Linked DNA regions of Homo sapiens. The gene in region 1 interacts genetically with each later gene. Each region holds a gene or a part of one and is shown on either strand. Other genes may lie near its edges. The genes, in order: MAP1B and MARCHF5.

The links.
Region 2: of MAP1B (region 1) and MARCHF5, a change in one rescues a mutant of the other (synthetic rescue), as found in Homo sapiens cells (one study listed by BioGRID).

Annotation. Positions count from the first base shown.
Region 1 is NC_000005.10:72,102,120-72,111,505, reverse strand, and holds the start of MAP1B (microtubule-associated protein 1B), read right to left. Parts: upstream 4,032-9,386; 5' UTR 3,975-4,031; coding exon 3,791-3,974; intron 3,582-3,790; exon of another isoform or gene 2,912-3,581; intron 2,732-2,911; exon of another isoform or gene 1-2,731. UniProt on the Homo sapiens protein: Facilitates tyrosination of alpha-tubulin in neuronal microtubules. Phosphorylated MAP1B is required for proper microtubule dynamics and plays a role in the cytoskeletal changes that accompany neuronal differentiation and neurite extension.
Region 2 is NC_000010.11:92,285,639-92,294,778, forward strand, and holds the start of MARCHF5 (E3 ubiquitin-protein ligase MARCHF5), read left to right. Parts: upstream 1-5,528; 5' UTR 5,529-5,856; coding exon 5,857-5,891; intron 5,892-9,140. UniProt on the Homo sapiens protein: Mitochondrial E3 ubiquitin-protein ligase that plays a crucial role in the control of mitochondrial morphology by acting as a positive regulator of mitochondrial fission and as an important regulator of immune response.

The DNA.
Region 1 (9,386 bases):
TTAAATTCTCTTACCATCTTAGACTGAAGGACATTCAGTTAAGTGACATCAGAATGTAACAATGTAATCAGCTAAACTTTTATCTAAAAATGCAGAGCAGTAGATGTTACATTCATCTATCTTTTCACCAACAAATCTTGCTGATTCCCAGTGTTAACTAAAGGAAAAGTTATAATCTAACGGTAATTGAAAACATCCAACAGACACTTAATATTCTTTATATGTTTTAGTTCCTTAAAAAAAAAATGAAACAATGAAAACGTTCACAAGGCTCTAGAATTCAGTTTGCAAGACACGGATGTATGTCCTCTATGTATTAAAATAAAACCAAGAAGCAGGGTTTTGCTGAAAATGAGAACCACTAGCTAAATCCATGCTGGGGGCTAATTAGGGAGGAGAAAAAGGAGGTGCCAAAGAGTAGTAGTTGGTGGTAGCGAAAACGATTTGGAATAAAGTCCTGCATAACTAAATAAATGAAGCTAGCCTAGTCCGAGGAAACACTATTGTTCCAAACTCTGGAGGAGACATGTCCAAAGCTTTCATTATGCTTTCCGAATATAGTTGAGAAAGCAAGAGGGACCATCTCTCTTCCCTGGTTTCAAGAGGCATTTACGAAGCATCCACATTGGGACGTTCCAGGCCTGTTGATTTACTGCATTACCACCATGTCTCTACAGATTTATAGATTATTTTCTAGGCTTCCCAGAGAGCCCTCAGTAATCGGATGGCAAGAATCCAAGTCGCCAGGGTCTCCAAACCCAGAATCTCAGTTAAGGCAGGAGGGGAAATAGGAAGAAAGAGTAACAGATGCGGAACTGCCTTCCCAGCCTGCAACACACAATCATCAGAGCTGGCCCCCCTGGAGCAGCTCCATCTTGCTTCACACAACAAGGCCCAAAGGCACCAAGCAACAACAGCAGTGGCCTCTGGAGGAGGCCCAGCTGAGACCTGGCGGCTGAAGCAGCAGCTTGTCGTGCACAGGAAAACAGGACCAGCCTGCTCTGTTGCTAAGTCATCTCAGACTGTCTGAAAAGCTATGGGAGCAGGATTTTCACTTAGCGCTGGAAGGGCCTGCATCTTGAGCTGCAGCCAAGACCCCAGAACCCAGGAGAGCCATCTTCAGAGGAAAAGCAGCATCTGCTACGGTGTGTAAAGAAACGGCTCTGCTCACTCACTTGGTTGATTCTTAATGGGATCAATACAGTCATTTCGGAGTTCCATGCAAAAACCTGACCAAATTAGGGAATTAAAAAATCAGGAAGCCATGATGTCTATTGCAAAGGGAACACAAGGGGGCTTCTGGGGTTCCAGTAATGTCTGTTTCTTGATCTGGGTAACCCAGGCGTGTCCGTTTTGTGAAAATTCGTTGAGCTGCTCATCTTTGATTTGTGCCCTTTCCTCTCTATATAATACTTCAACCGAATTTTTTAAAAAATTAATGTCAAGAAGACAAATCTGAATTTTGTCACTAAGTGCTAGTAGTGTAAAAACGAGTAAAGGCAGGGAGCCCTTCTTCATAGCAGTACGTGGATGCGTCTGTTTTCTCCATAAATAGATGCAGCTTGTATAAACCCTCTGAGGAATAGGGCGCTGAAAGGATGATCAGATGAGTAACAAAGCAGGAAGATAATTACGATCCGAAGGTGATTGCTGAACCATCTCCCAGCATGGGGCGCTGCCCACAAGTGGATGGCCATACAAAGGCAAGCCCTGAAAACTGTTGTACTGAAACCTTCCTCCCATCATAGGATGTTAGCCAACCCTGCACTAACATCATGACAGGGTCAGAAAACGAGTGACGCTGCAGTACTGGTACTTCTGTCACTTATGAGTGCTGTGACCTTGAGCCGGTTCTCTTACCCTTCCTGCCTCTCTGGGCCCCCAGCTCTAAAACGGGGTTGATGATCCCTCTCCTAGCACCACCACATCGAATGGTTATGAAGATTTTGTAGATAGAAAAGCACCTCCTAATATATTCCTATTTCCCAGAAATGCTACTTACAAATAATTTTTTAAAGAAAAAAATCCAAAGTCATTGATTCCCACAATAGCCACACCCAAAGTCAGTATGTGTAAAATTTTTCCAGGAGAAAATTGTGCAAATAAACTAAATTAGAACAGATTAGACCAAAGGCCTATATAGTCTGAAAATGAAGGGTTATTGAGATGCTCAAATAAGACATTTCACTACTGAAATATCTCTTGTTCTTGAATTTTTTGGAATAAAATACTATGACTTTCTGCTCACATTTTTTTTCTTTTTTTTTTTTAAGCTAAAAGGGAAAATCAAGTGCTTTAAAGTTAAACAAAAGAACCAGGTCTGCAACTCCAGTCCCCACCCTGCAGCCTTTTGTTCTGGGGACAAGTGGCCGTTTCCAACTGCAGAGGCAGATGACAAGCATTTATTTTTTCATCTAAAACAAGGTTTTTCTTTCGTCTTTTATTGGGGAGGGGGAGTGGGGAACGAGGGCTGCGTGAACGCCCTTTGTCCGCCTCGGGCTGCCGTAGAGACCGCAGTGCGGACTGCACCACGCCCACCAACCGGTGTCTCCCGGAGAAACGCTTCAGCACCACCCCAGGAGAATAGAGCGCGGGCTGGGGCTGCGGAGGGACCCGGCGACCTCTGTCAGGAGCGAGGGGAGGGCCGGGACGCCAGGGATAAAGGGAAAGGCAGAGACCAGAGCTGCCCACCCAGGGACTCCCAGGGCAACAAAGCCAGGCAAACTGAGAGGTGGGGGCGCGCGGCCCCCGCCAGCCCGAGGCCCGGGCGGAGCGCAAGCCCAGCCAGCCGTGCCCGACGGGGGCGCCGCAGTGTGGGGGGGCAGGTGTGGCGGGCGGTCCGGAGGCACTGCGGCAGCTCGGGTGGGGCTGGGGGCGGTCTCTCTGTGCGCCCGAGGCTGTGCCCGCCGGACCCTCACGGCCCCGCCCAGGGTCCCCGGCGTACCGCTATTCGGCCTCCGCAGAGCGCGCCACTGGTGCGAGCACCGGGCGAGGAGCTGACCCTACCCGCTGACGTCTCCCTCACCGACCCCCTTCAAGCTACCACTCCCGAGGCTGGGACTTCTAAAAGCAGCAGCCCCACCCCGCAACTTGGGGTCCCATTGTCCTTTCTGAGAGCTGCAGCCAAGGCCCCAAGGGCGGTAGCGAGGCGGGCTCTGTCTGGTGGCGAAGCGCAGGCGGTTCTGCATCCCAGCATCTCCCCGGGGAGGGGGGGGCGGGGGGAGCGGGCGTGGCCCTAGGACTAGCCTAGTCATTCTGAGGAAAGAAAGGATCGGGAGGTTTGAAATCAGAAAAGGCGTTTCTCAGGGGCTGAGGTAGCCGTGGTGAGGATGAATCCCACGCGGGCCCTGGCACATGGGCTTCGGCCCCAGGTCTGCGGTGGTGGGGGTCCCAGCCTTTTCCTGAGGCCAGAAGAGGACTGAAAGGAGTGGTTGCATCAGGTCTCCCCCACCCTTCTGCCTCCTGCGGTTGCGGCTTTATTGTGGCCTCTGCTCCCCTGACACCTGCATTTCACTTAGCGGGAGAGGCGGTGGCCAACTCAGCACAGGCTGCGGACTCAGCGTGGTGACAGATCCCTCAAGGTTATTGGAGACTCTCCCTCTGGGTCTCATATCTAATAATTCGGATTATTCTTAATTAGCCCAGAAAGGGTCTGGACCAAGTATGAGAGGTGACGAGGAGAGGCATGGGTGCGGGGCGCGCGGGAGGAGCGCAGTGACCGTCGCGCCCTGGGTGGGGTCGTGTTTGCGCGTCTCCCAGCGCGCGTCTCTGGGGGCGCGGGGCCACTTACCGAGCTCGATGTTGCCGATGGCACGCCGCAGGTGCTCCTCGGTCACGATCTCGCCGACGACCACCAGCAAGTAGAACTTGCTGTCAAGGAAGCGGTGCGACAGGCTAGGCGAGGTGGACGCCGCCGGGTTGGCGATGCTGCCGGACGGCTCCGGCTCGGTGGCTTCCACCACCACGGTCGCCATCCTGCCGGCTGCTGTGCCTCGGCGAAGTGTCTCGCTCCGGCCGCTCCTCTCCACTGCGGCAGGAGAAAGGATTATCTCCGAAGGTACTGTCTCCGCTCCGCCCCCTGCGTCCCCCCTCCTCTGGCGCCGCGCGCCGCCTCCCCCTCCGCCCTCTCCCAGCGCCGCGGAGAGTGCGCGGCGGAGAGGAGCGGGGAGTGAGAGAGGGCGGGGAGGCGGCGCCGCTTTTATATGGAGACTAGGCAGGGAGCCGGGAGGAGGAGGAAGAGGAGGAGGAAAGGACCACCCGGCACATCCTCACGCGGTGGCTGCCTCCGCTCTTCCAGCCGTTGGCCCGGGGCTGATGTCATCTGCAGCAAATCATCTCGCCCGCGGCCCGGAAGCTGGAGGGACGAGGTGTGCGGACAATGGTCGGGGCAGGGCCGCGAGCCAAGGGGCTGGGGCGCCCGCTGAGCTCCTGCTGCAGCCGTGAAGGGGGAAGACGCTCTCAACCTACACCACCCACCACGTACACACCCACTGCCCACTCCTCACCCTCACCCTGTCTGTGCATGGGAATGGGATGAGTTTCCATTTTCGGAGTGGGGGTCTTTTCTCTTGTTGGAGTTGCACTAGTCAGGCCTCTGCCTTGTGTGCTGTGTATGATGTAGCCAGGTTCTCAGGAACTGGGATAGCCACAGTGGGCAGATGCGGGGCTGTGGGTACCCCGCCTAGGAAGACGGAACCTGTCTTTTCTTTGACCTTGTGGCTTTAAGAAGACGAATTTACTGATATTTACCAATATCAATATTTACCACCTTCACTTAAAGAATACATCAAAAATGCAAAACTTAAGCCTACTATTGTTCAGGCCTTGGATTCTACTCTGGCAGGGCCAAGGATGAAAAAGTACTGGCTTTGTGGTGCTCATGGGAAATGAGAGAAATGCAGATGTATTATATTAGATACCAATTTCTTTCCTTAATGTGCTGAACAGATAGTATCAGTAATAACAAAGAATAAAGAGAAGATACTGTCTCTACTCAGCAGGGTTACAGTGACTATAATGTACTTTTCAGTTCCTTGGGGAACACACAAGCAAAATTACCTCGTGACAATGATGTCTTTTAAAATACCTGTAGCATTGGGAATTTTTATTGCCTTTGTTTGTGTTTAGAAGAACTAAAAAATGTGTTTTTTGTTTTTGTTTTTTTGTTTTTTTTTTTAAGGCAGCCTATTTACAACCGTTTCTCACAAACATACTGAATATAGCTTCTGTCCCAGAAAAGGGGAGGAGGGTGAGGAAAGAGCAAAATGTGCAAACATGGTATCATAGAAGACTGGGGAATTCGAGCTTTAAGGAAGAGGAATAGATGGAAATTAGTCAACATAGCTTTAATACTAGAATGCCTGTTAGTAAAATATAGATGATAGATAGATAGATAGATAGATAGATAGATAGATAGATAGATAATCACCTAGATATTCTTAAGATTTCCAAAATAACCCAGTGTCTTAGGTGTTAGCTGCCATGACTTATTGGTCATGTACTCTTTGCTCTTATATCTTTCCTGACACCCTGGCATGGGAGACATGCTGGGCAGCCAAGGGCTGGGGGGTTCCATCCAACATGTCAATCTGATCAATGCAGAATGAAAATACCGTCTGGCCCGCAGTATTTGGGATCTGTGACAGGATCACTAGAGAGTTGCATTCACCAGTAATTAGATGAAGTGTTTCCAACTAGCTGCATTCACCAGTAACTAGATGAAGTGTTTCCAGATAATATTTTGGTTAAGATATTCAATTGCTGTTCAAGAAGTAAGGCCAGCACCAAAGCCCATAACTGGGGTGAGGGGCAGGAAATATGGTGAAGAGCACTGTTTTCTAAAGGTCATCCGTTGGATTCCAGCCTCATCTAGTTTGTGTTTGGTTTTCCTTTCTTTGAACCATTGTTACTTTTATGTATGTAATAGTTTTCTTTTATGCAGTTTATTTCTTTTACTTAAATTTATTTTTAAATGCAATTCTATGTTGCTGTATAAATGGAAACACTAATATCACTTATTAATAGAAAGTATCCCTAAAAATATACACAATGAAGATAAGATGTGATCAAATTCCTGCTACATACTGTTATGATTTGCTCAAGACTCTGAGTCCAAGGCTCTCCTTTCTTGGTTGAAAACAGAGATTGGCCAAGTGTTAGAGAGGTATTAAAGAGATACTAACACCTAACTGAGTTGTTCTCCATGTTGCAACAGAAGATTGGATGAAAATTATAACAGAGCGCTTTCTTACTGTGTGTGTCTGTGCAATTAAACACCATGACCGTGACCACCTAAGTCATCACCCACACTTTGAAAAATAGAGGCATAATGGGAGAACACAGACTAGGGATGCAGAATACTACTTTACAGCTCGGTAACTTTGGCAAGTGACTTACTCTTTTTGATCTTCCATCTCCTTATTTAATGAGAAGAAGAACATCTTTATAACTGTTAAAGTAACTGTAAGAAAGAAGGAAATGATAGAATGTGTAAGCACCTAATACAGTGGCTGGGCATAGTAAGCAATCAAGGGATGGTTGATTCATTGACCTGTTTTCTCCCAGTTACTAAGACAATGGAGCAAAAGCAGTCTTATAAAATGTGCAAGTGATACTGCTACAACACCTCTGAAACAAGAACAGAATATTACATTATTATACTTCAATACTAGAAAAGTAGCCCCTTCCCCTCTTCATCCCAAGAAAATGTATACAGTTCTAAGGAGGAAAAAGGGGGAAAACTAACATATAAGAGCACCAATATTGCCAGCTGCTCAACTGACATCACCTGGATATACCAAAGGCACCAGAATCTTGACATGCTCCAAACCCAAATCATCTTTTACCTCTAAACGGGATCCTCTCTCATTCTTGTTATTTCAATGAACCATAACACCATGTATCCCATGATGCAAACCAAAACCTCACAAATATTTTGGACTCTCCCCTGACCCTTAGCCTCGTGTGCAATCCAGCATGGAGTCTGGTCAATTTCACCTTCAGTATCTCTTCAATCCATCCACGTTTCTCCATTATCACCAACCTAGTCCAAGCTAGCATCATTGTGATAGGTACTAGTGTACCGGTTAGAAAATGGGTTCTGGAGTCAGACTGCCTGGTTTTGAATCCTAATACCATAATTTATTAGCTGTGTGGCCTTAAGCAAGGTGCTTAACCACTCTATACCTTGGTTTTCTCATTTGTATAGTAGAGATGAGTACCGACCTCATGGACAGGAGGACAGTTTAAATATGCAAATTACTTAAAACAGTGCCTTGCATATAATGAGCACTTAATAGGGATTAGTTGTTTTTGGTATGGGGTTAGTTGTTTTTGGCTGTTATTGTTTAACATTTTACTATGGAAAATTTCAAACAGAGAGAGTATAATGTAAGTAACACCCACATACCCATTATCCCCAATCCATAGATTTTTATAGTTTGCTTCTTTAAATCAAGATTGAAATAATGTCTATATATTTCAACTGATTCATCAGTCTTAAACTCCTTTGATCTATGTAATCCTGCTATTTTTTTCCTTGTAATTTTCTGTTGAATAGTGGCAACATTGTTCAGCAGAGTTTCACAAAGCATAAATTTTGCCGATTGCATCACCTGTTGTGTTATTTAACATGTTCTTCTATCTTCTGAATTTTCTGAGAGAACTAAAGTCTTGATCAGATGCAGATTTGATATTTTTTACATGTATACTTCATAGGTAATATTGTGATCTTCCATCAGAAGGCACCTAAAGACTAGTTAACCCTCATTCTGTGATTTTAGCAGCTATTGATGATCATTACCTAGATCCATTATTTCACTATGGATTGAAAAAATGATAATATTCTAATTTTGTTATTATTTATTTGACAGCTAGAAGACTTCTGTTAGGAGAAGCGTTATCCTGTCAGTTGATTACCCTGAGGTACGGTATGTACAGGAAAAGAAGGATAAACAAATGATTTTTTCTCTTTATTTACTGATTTTCAAAATAATTAATTTATTCCAAATCATTCTCTAAAGGTGACTAATTTTTTGTATCATTACAAATATAACTTACATTATTCATATTGATGCTTTCATTTTTTCATCTTTGGCCAGTAGTATGGTAAGGTATCCCTAGCTTACCTTGCACATATCTGGCCTCAGAACCTGGAATGAGCCGTTTCTCTATGGAATCCAAGTTCCTTACGTGGGTAATGGTATTTGGAGACCCCTGTATACCAGGTGCTACTACTATTTTGATCATTGTTTCTAGATATTTTCAGTGGACAGAAATATGAAATAAATTGTTTTTCAAGTATGAGTTCATACTTATACCTCTAACTCAGAATCGGGACTACAGGGATTTTGCCTAACGTTTTATCTTGCATCTGTATTTCCTTTGTCCTATGCCTAGAATTCCAGTTTTCAAAGACTCCAAGGTGACAGAATTAGAACAGCAGATAGTTTCTCATTTTTCTTGTTCCACAATATATACAAATTACCCTCATGGTAGTTTTAGATACGAATGCAACACTTTTGCCAACAATGTGATTACTAAAAACATTTTAAGGTATATAGTTTTTTTGTTTGTTTGTTTGTTTGGTTGGTTGGTTGTTTTTTTTGTTTTTGTTTTTTTTTTTTTTTTTTTTTTGAGACCGATTCTCACTCTTGTTGCCCAGGCTGGAGTGCAGTGGCGCCATCTCGGCTCACTGCAACCTCTGCCTCCCAGGTTCAAGCGATTCTCCTGCCTCAGCCTTCTCAGTAGCTGGGATTACAGGCACCCACCACCATGCCTGGCTAATTTTTGTACCTTTAGTAGAGATGGGGTTTCGCCATGTTGGCCAGGCTGGTCTCAAACTCCTGACCTCAGATGATCTGCCCGCCTCAGCCTACCAAAGTGCTGGGATTATAGGTGTGAGCCACCGTGCCCAGCCTAAGCTATATAGTTTTAAAGTGTAATTAATTCTGTTATATATGATCGTGCCACTAACTCAGTGCATAGTTATGTTCATTTGTTTCATTTTGTTTTCAGTTTTTATGAATTGATTTTTACAATTTAATTTTGCTTTATAGTAATGTAAAATATTTACATGGTTCCAAGGTGAAATCTACAAAACAATTTGTATTTGGAGAACTTTAGCCTCTATCCCTGTCCCCTCCAGCTTTCTCCCTGTCTCTTCCTGTGAGTAACAATTTTTTACCTTGATTTAGCCTTTCACTTTAAAAATGCAAGTAGCAGCATATACATACAATTTTCTCCACTTTGCTTATTTCATCAAACACTATATCCCGGCTATAACGCTACAATAATATATGTTAATATTCCTCATTTTTATTTATAGCTGCATAGTAACCCATTATGTTTATTTACTATAATTTACTCAACCAGTCCATTGTTGGTGA
Region 2 (9,140 bases), on another chromosome or scaffold:
TTCCGCTTACATAACAGATCTATAGTTCAAGTTATAAAGGATAACTTCTTTCTTTACATCCTTTCATTCTTACCCAGACCCAAGATCCTTCTTTACCTCTTCACCTACATTAATTACTCCTCTTGCTACAAAGTAGAGCCTAAATTGGTTTTACAAAGCTCTCTTTAACACACCAGTCCACAACAGTTTCCAGTGGAACTTCTACATCACTCTAAATTTCTATGCTGTTTATTTGACACTTCCTCAAATGCTATCATGTTATCATTATACAATATTTCATTATTATACTCTGTTTTATTTGCTTTTTTCTTTTTTTTTTTTTGAGAGGGAGTCTGTCCCCAGGCTGGAGTGCAGTGGTACAATCTCGGCTCACTGCAAGCTCCGCCTCATGGATTCACGCCATTCTCCAGCCTTGGCCTCCCGAGTAGCTGGGACTACAGGCGCCCGCCACCATGCCCGGCTAATTTTTTGTATTTTTAGTAGAGACAGGGTTTCACTGTGTTAGCCAGGATGGTTTCGATCTCCTGACCTTGTGATCTGCCCACCTCGGCCTCCCAAAGTGCTGGGATTACAGGCGTGAGCTACCACACCCAGCCTGCTTTTATTTTTCTAAATATAAACATATTTAGGTATGTAGATTGTATGCCTCTGAAGGGTAGCTATAGGCCAGGCACAGTGGCTCATGCCTGCAATCTCAGCACTTTGGGAGGCCAAGGCAAGTGGATCACTTGAGGTCAGGAGTTCAAGACCAGCCTGGGCAACATGGAGAAACCTCATCTCTACTAAAAATACAAAAATTAGCTGGGCGTGGTGATGCATGCCTGTGATCCCACCTACTCAGGTGGCTGAGGCATGAGAATCTCTTGAACCTGGGAGTGGGAGGTTGCAGTGAGCTGAGATGGCACCACTGCACTCCAGCCTGGGCAGCAGAGCAAGACTCTATCTAAAAAAAAAAAAAAAAAACATAGGTATAGTTATAATTTGCTACTAGCATACCTATGCATATATTTTCTGGAAACACCTGCTGAAGGAATTAATGAAAAAAAAACTTTCTGTAGCTTGGAATGAGGACTCAGCCTGCAGTTTATCACCAAATTTGGCAATTGACAGTTCTCCTTAGAAGGCACCTAAAAATATTATACCATTTCTGTAACGAATACTCCAGGCCCCTTTATGGTAGACAGTTCAAAACAAGTATGATGGAAGAACATTAGAGTGGTATATTATTTTAAATTTTCTGACATATTTAGAGCAGCTCATACTCAGTTATCTCTAAATCCATTACAGAATTATTAAAATAGTGGTGTGCGCCTATAATCCCAACTCTTTAGAACTCTACATCATCAAGCTTTGTTCTTGTCCTCTGAACTTGGGAGAATCTTTAAATATTTTCTGTAGGTTAATTTCTATTTCAAAATATATCTCTGAGGAAAAAGTTGTTTTTGTCTATAGTCATGCTGGTTACTCTCTTGGCTGAATATCATTTATCATAGACTTTTTTTTTTTTTTGAGACGGAGTCTCACTCTGTTGCCAGGCTGGAGTGCAGTGGTGCGATCTCAGCTCATTGCAACCTCCGCCTCCCAGGTTCAAGCGATTCTCCTATCTCAGCCTCCTGAGTAGCTGGGACTACAGGTATGCGCCACTATCATAGATTTTCAACCCTACATATAAATGCAGGAGTGCATTTCAATGTGGTTTTGGTCAGATTAAGGTCTTAATAATCTAGACTTTTTTCCTTCAAAATCAGAGAATATATTGTAATTCCAATTATTCTGAGTCTTATTGGAAAATGTAAGACCACAAAAAACAAAGCTGACAAACAATATTGAAATTCACACAATATGTGTCACCCATTTCAAATGTTAGGATTAATTTATTTTCTGAGTTTTATCAATCACTATTTTTGCCCATACTAATAAGAAACAAAGTTGATAATAAAGAATTATCAGTTATCTGTTTATATGCTTCTTTTCAGATACCCTTATGAACATTTTCTGTGGAGCTAATTACTCTTTTAAAAGCTTTATTGAGATGTAATTTATGTAACATTAAAATTCACCCCTTTTAAGTGTACAATGGGTTTTTGAGTATATTTACAGTTTTGCCACTATTACCATAATCTAATTTTATCTTATTTGTGATATAATTCACAAAATTATATAACCAGAACCATTATCTAATTCTAGAATACTTTCATCCCTCTAATAAGGAACCTCATACTCATTAGCAGTCACTCCCCATTTCTCCCCAACTCCTTCAGCCCTATGCAATCACTAGTCTACTTTCCGTCTCTATGGAGTTGCCTATTCTTGACTTTTCATGCAAACAGAATCATACAATATGTGGTCTTTGTGACTGGCTCCTCTCACTTGGTATAATGTTTTCAAGGTTCTTTCATGTTATAGCATGTATCATAACTTTATTCCTTGTTTTCTCCTAATAATATTCTATTGTATGATACACCACATGTGGTTTATCCATTCATCAACTGGTGGATATTTGGGTTTCCACTTTTTGGCTATCAAGAATAATGCTGTAGGCCAGGTGCTGTGGCTCATGCCTGTAATCCTAGCATTTTGGGAGGCCGAGGTGGGAGGATCATTTGTGCTCATGAGTTCGAAACCAGCCTGGGCAACATGGCAAAACACCATCTCTACAAAAAAAATTTTTTTAAGCCAGACATGGTGGTGCGCCCCTGTAGTCCTAGCTACTTGGGGGGCTGAGGCAGGGGGAGTGCTTGAGCCCCTGAGGCTGAGGATGCAGTGAGCTGGCGCCACTGCACTCCAGCCTGGATGACAAAGCGAGACTCTGTCTCAAAAAAAAAAAAAAAAAACCCAGAATAATGCTGCTATGAACATTCACAAACAAGATTTTGTGTAGACATGTTTTCATTTCTCTTGAAAATACCTAGAAGTGGAATTACTGGGTCACATGCTAATCACTCTTTAGACCAGTAACAGGATTTTTTTCTACTTTAAAAGGTTTTTGACACAGCCAGAAAGCTGATTTTTCATAAAAATGCAAACATAAAATCCATTTGTTGGTATAATAAGGTCAAGGTGCACAAGTCTTTGCTATCAACAAAAGGTATCATATTTTCCAATTTCAGTTGAAACAGACATTCTAACATTGGTTAAGATCTTAGAATCTTGGAGTTTGTACTAGTGTACTTAATCCATATGCTGGGATAAAATTCTGTTTTTAAGCAGGAAGTATATATCCAACTCCCATGGCTGACAACTGCTTAAGAAATAAGTACACAATAAGGTTAGACTGACACAGCACAAGGAGCAAAAAATAATAATTTAAAATGTTAAGACACCGGGCTGTGCACGGTGGCTCACATCTATGATCCCAGCCCTATGGGAGGCCGAGGCAGGCAGATCACCTGAGATCAGTTCAAGATCAGCCTGGTCAACATGGTGAGACCCTGCCTCTGCCAAAAATACAAAAGTTAGCCAGGCATGGTGGTGCGAGCCTGTAATCCCAGCTACTCCGGAGGCTGAGGCACGATAATCACCTGAACCCGGAGGAGGAGACTGCAGTGAGCCAAGATAGTGCCACTGCACTCCATCCTGAGCAACACAGCGAGACTCCGTCTCAAAAAAATAAAATAGACCAGGCGCGGTGGCTCGCCCCTGTAATCCCAGCACTTTGGGAGGCCGAGACGGGCTGATCGCCTGAGGTCAGAAGTTCGAGACCAGCCTGGTCAACATATAGTGAAACCCCATCTCTACTAAAAAACACAAAAATTAGCTGGGTGTGGTGGCACACACCTGTAGTCCCAGCTACTTGGGAAGCTGAGGCTAGAAGGATCACTTGAAGTCAGGAAGTGGAGCTTGCAGTGAGTCAAGACAGCGCCACTGCACTCCAGCCTGGGCAACAGAGCAAGACTCCATCTCTCAAAATCAATGAATTAATTAAATAAATGAATTAATTAAATAAAATATTAGACACTGGTCACATGCGGTGACTCACATCTGTAATCCCAACACTTTGGGAGACCAATGCGGGTGGCTCGCTTGAGCCCAGGAGTTGCAAGACCAGCCTGGGCAACATGGCGAGACCGCGTCTCTACCAAAAAAAAAAAAAAATATATATATATATATATATATATATGTATTATATATTATAAATGTATATATGTATTATATATTATAAATGTATTATATATTATATAATACATATATATTATATATAATACAAATATATATAAAATATTAGACACCCCGATTAAACTAAATACTCATTTTCTTTCCCTAGGAGGAGTGTGTGTGTATGTGTGTGGTGGGGGGGGGTGGGTGCTGTTTCTCAAAAACATATTTCAAAAATTGGAGGCCAAGTAAGCTTCTGGTCACATTTTTTGGGTTTGTTGTTTTTTCCCAGCAATGAACACTCTAGTTCAAATATACTTCGCAAATTTTGAACAGATAATGAAAAGTTGATTGTAAAATTCTACATATAAAAAGAGCTTTAAAAACACATTTTCATTTTTTAAAAAATCAAACACCTTGTAGCAGATATTAGACATAATCAAGGGAAAACTACCAGCGTCCTACCAATCACAGCCCTAGAGAAAACGCCACAGGTCGTCCAAAAAACGCATTCGTTTGAGCCGACAGCTCTTTCCTCCCGCCAAAGCTATCCCTCGAACGTCAGAAGCTGACCCAAGGAGTGACTGATGATTTCTCCTTTTTGATTCCCCACCCCCGCCACTCCCAATCCACCTGCTTGAAGGTGTCAACGCGACTAGAAACGGTTAACAGTGACCAGCAGCAGAGAGAGAAACAAACATCCCTGACAACCCACAGCTGAGTAAGCAAGAGCTGTTTATTCACCAACGTGTTCCATTTGGAGACTGTCGGCGAGCCCTGGAAAGCCCAGGCACATTTGAGAAGGTTCCTGGAGAGGGAGAGAATCATCTTTCCTTCCCCCAACTCCCCAGCCCCAAACACACAGAGAGACTCGGGTGGAAGCTGTCTGGTCCAGGCAGTCCCTATTTGCCCGCCCCCTCAAGAAGAACCTCACGCACCAAACCAACCGACCCCTCGCGGAGGTGGTGTAATTCCCCCAAAATGGGCTCTGCCGCAGGAGAGGCTGGCTCCAGCGCCGGGGGCTTCGGAAGGAGTTTCTGCCACCCCCACTGCCGCCACTGACCGCCCCGACGCCACGGCCGGGGCCGGGGACCCTGATAAGAAATGGCCCTTCAGCCCCCTCCCCTCACCTGGCTCGGTCCCACCTGAGGGCAAGAGCGGAGGCAAAAACAAACAGGCAGGGAGGGCTGACCTTGTTGCTACCGACAGTGGAGCGGCGCATCCTGCTGCTTCCTGGAAAGCGGCCCGAAAGACATTTTTTCCCCCTGGAGGAAGGAAACGGGAGGGCGCCGGCCAGACGGCGGCAGGCGCGGAGGCGTTGGTCCGGGCGGGCTGTGCAGCCTCTAGTGGAGACGGTCCGAAGACTACATCTCCCAGGCTGCTCTGGGCCGCCCTGCGTCGTAACCCTGGCGCGCACGGAGGCGGCGACTCTTACCTCACAAAGGTAGCTCCTCCGCCGGCAGCAACTCGGCGCCCGCGGTCCATGGACCGGAACCTCGGGCCGACGGACGGGAACCCGGGCCGCGATCGCCGCCTCCCCGCCTCAGGCTCCTCCTCCTCGCTCTCCGCCGCCTCCGCCGGACTCCCGCAGGCCCTGCACCGCCGCCGCCAGGCTAGCGGAGCTGCCCCGGGAAGCTGGGTGACGGGTTCGCGGCTGCCGCCGGACTGCGGCCTACTCCGCCGCCTCTCAGTGCTATTGTCCCTGGGCCTGGCCTTGAGCGGGTCCACTGGGGAAGGCCGTGTGCGCCGGCTCCGCGGAAGATGCCGGACCAAGCCCTACAGCAGATGCTGGACAGGTACGGGCAGCTGTGGGGGGGACCGGGAGCCGCCGACCCTCGCTCTGGCCCTGCCCGCGCCCGCCCTCGAGGCTCTTGGTGAGCAGAACCCGGCGTGCCGGGAGGAGTTCCACGGCCAGGGGGCCGTGAGAGGGGCAAAAAGTTTGGAGTCTAGACCTGGGGGAGGACAGAGCGAGCGGCCTGGGTCGTAGACTTTGGGTGAAACTTAGCTAAGGAGTGGCGTCTGGTTTCCTTGGAACCCCGTTTTGACCTGAGAGGGACTCCTGTTAATCCACAAAATTAGTTTTCCTTACCCTCTTCCCCTCCCCCTTCCCCCTCCCCAACTTGTGAAGTGTTTGTCAGCGATGTCACTGGCAAGAACCGGGTTATCTTTCAGGGGAATGACCCCCTTATAATTTTAAGTCTCTGTCTGAGAACCAATGATAAGCATTCTTTTGGAAAGCCTGATAGGCTGATTTCATTCTCCCACTTTCCCTGAACCCGCACCCCCCGTCCCCCCCGCCCCATCCCGTCCCCACCTCCGAACTGTAAGGTCAGAGTATCCGCAAGGGAGATTTAACGGTCAGACCAGAGTAGAGGTTATGGAAAACAGCCAAATGAGTCCAACGCTGAACATTTAGTGTACTTGACGATCGTTGAGTTCATTGAAGACGTTTCAGCTCGTACAGGAGTCCAGTTGCCCATTCTTGGGGGGCCCCAGTCGGTAAAACTCTTTGTGAAGTCGGGTGCACCGCCCTCTGCTGTTGAAATTCTGGTCCGTGGGTCCTACCATGAGTTTTTGGAGACTCTAGATCCACATTTCCCCCGAGCCAAGTCTTACTTCCTGGCATAGCAAGTTGTACAAGCTAATTCATGATGTTTGTGGTTGCTTACAATTCTCAATAGACACCACTTGCCACCCATTTCAGCAGGTGGTACCAACTCTTTGTACTCAGTAAAATTCCAACTGTAAGGTGTTAAATGAAGGCCCTCCCTTAATTGAGTTTATACCCAGTTAAATGCTTTTGGGCCTGCCACACCCAGAACACAAATGACCCAAGGGTACACATCCTTCCAGAGTGACAGACATTTTTTTGGAGCTTAGAATTTTGAGCCATCTCAGTTAATAGGAATTATGTCACTGATTTTTTTCAGTTGAGATAACTGGTGATTCATCCAGCCCTTGTTTCAGGTCAACATCCTGACAATTGTATTGACTGCTTTATATATATATGTGTGTGATATGTGTGTGGTTTATAAGCTCTTGGAAGCAGAAACTTACTATTGTTTATCTTGAATCCCAGAACAGAGCCTGGTACTCAGTAGGTAATCAGTAAGTATTTGTTGTATGAACTAATGCACAAACTTATTTGTCAGTTTCCCCAGTTGTCTAGGGGGTCTGATAATTTACCAGGTTTTCCTTTCATTGTAAATTGGCAAATTGTGGCAAATTAAAATATGCCCAGAGGAAACCACCTGCCACTGCCAGTTCTATTCTGTTGAGACCCTGTTCTGATGTGGGGTATTTTGTAGTTAATTTTTTTCCTTTGAGGGCCTCCTGCTTTTCATTTTTACATAGTGACTTTTTTTCTTCTTTTTTTGAGACAGGGTCTCTGTTGCCCAGACTGGAATGCAGTGGCAGTGGCAGTGGCATTGGCATGATCTCAACTCACTGCAACCCCCGCCTCCCAGGCTCAGGTGATCCTCCTACCTCAGCCTCCCTAGTAGCTGGGACCACAACACATACCACCATGCCCAGCTAATTTTTTGTATTTTTATAGAGCCAGAGTTTTGCCATGTTGCCTGTGCTGGTCTCAAACTCCTGGGCTCAAGTGATCCTCCCGCCTAGCCTCCCAAAGTGCTGGATTGTCAGGCATGAGCCATCGTGCCCAGCCTAGAAAAGTTCTTATGTCCAAAAGCTGACCTAACTTTTCATATGCTCTTTGGATATTTCCATAAAAGTAAGAAGCCAAAGAGTGAGCCTGGGCACGGTGGCTCACCCTTGTAATCCCAGCACTTTGGGAGGCCAAGGCAGGCAGATCACTAGAGCTCAGGCCTTTGAGACCAGCCTAGCCAACATGGTGAAACCCTGTCTCTACTAAAAAAAAAAAAAAAAATACAAAAATTAGGCAGGCGTAGTGGCGTGGGCCTGTAGTTCCAACTCTCGGGAGGCTGAGGCATGAGAATTGCTTGAACCTGGGAGACGGAGGTTGCAGTGAGCTGAGATCGCACCATTGTACTCCAGCCTGAGTGACAGAGTGGAACTCCATCTCAAAAAAAAAAGCTAGTGAGGCATTTAAAACTTATTAACAGAAATGCGAAGATTCTGGCTGCCATTTACTGAAGTAGGTGACTATGACACTGGCTTACTCTCATCTTTGTACTACTCTCATCTTTGTACTCTTTTGACATACCTTAAGGTAGATTTTTAACATGACTTTCAAAGACCGTTATTGTCTAGATTAGTAGTTGGCAACCTACTTCCATGTTAGAATTACCTGGGGAGCATTTCAGAATATGCATGGATGCTGGACTGTAAGACCAATAAGATCAAAAATTTCTGTAGGGTAGAGCCTGGGCATCTATATTTTAAAGCTTTTTAAATGTTTTAGATATGGCAGAAACCTACTGCCCTAAGTCCTAAGTCAGTGATATCTTTCATGATAAGAGATAGTAGGGTATAGTGAGTAAAGCTTGGGCTCAGAGATAGAAAGTATGAAATTCGAATTTTGCCACTTACTAGCTATGTGACTTTGAACTTAGATTCTGACACTATGTATATTATCATTTATAAAATGAGAACCCTACTTCACAGGGCTACAGCAAATGAAACATACATCTCTATAAAACAGCAAAACACTCTATGTTAGCCAAATAGAAGGCACTTAAGACTAATGTAAACCAGTTTGGCCATTTTTCCCCCATCTACTTTATGTTTACAGCTTTCTTCACCTGGGCTGGCCCTACTGCAAGTTGAACACAAAGATACTCAACATGGTTCACTTGAGGAATACCAACAGGGCCAAGAGACTAAAATATGTCAGCCTATTAGGACCCAGAATTCTTTTCATGAATTTGGCTTCTCCCCAACCTGGTTTTTGGTGGCAATTTTTGAGGGACAGAATTTAGCTCAGATAACTGTTCATTTGTTTATTTCTTTAATGCAGGTTTTATCTTCGTGAAGACTAAGGAACTGTGTGTTACATATTGTTCTGTTGCTTTTAGGTTAAGTTACGTATTTTATTTAGGCCAGGCACAGTAGCTCATGCC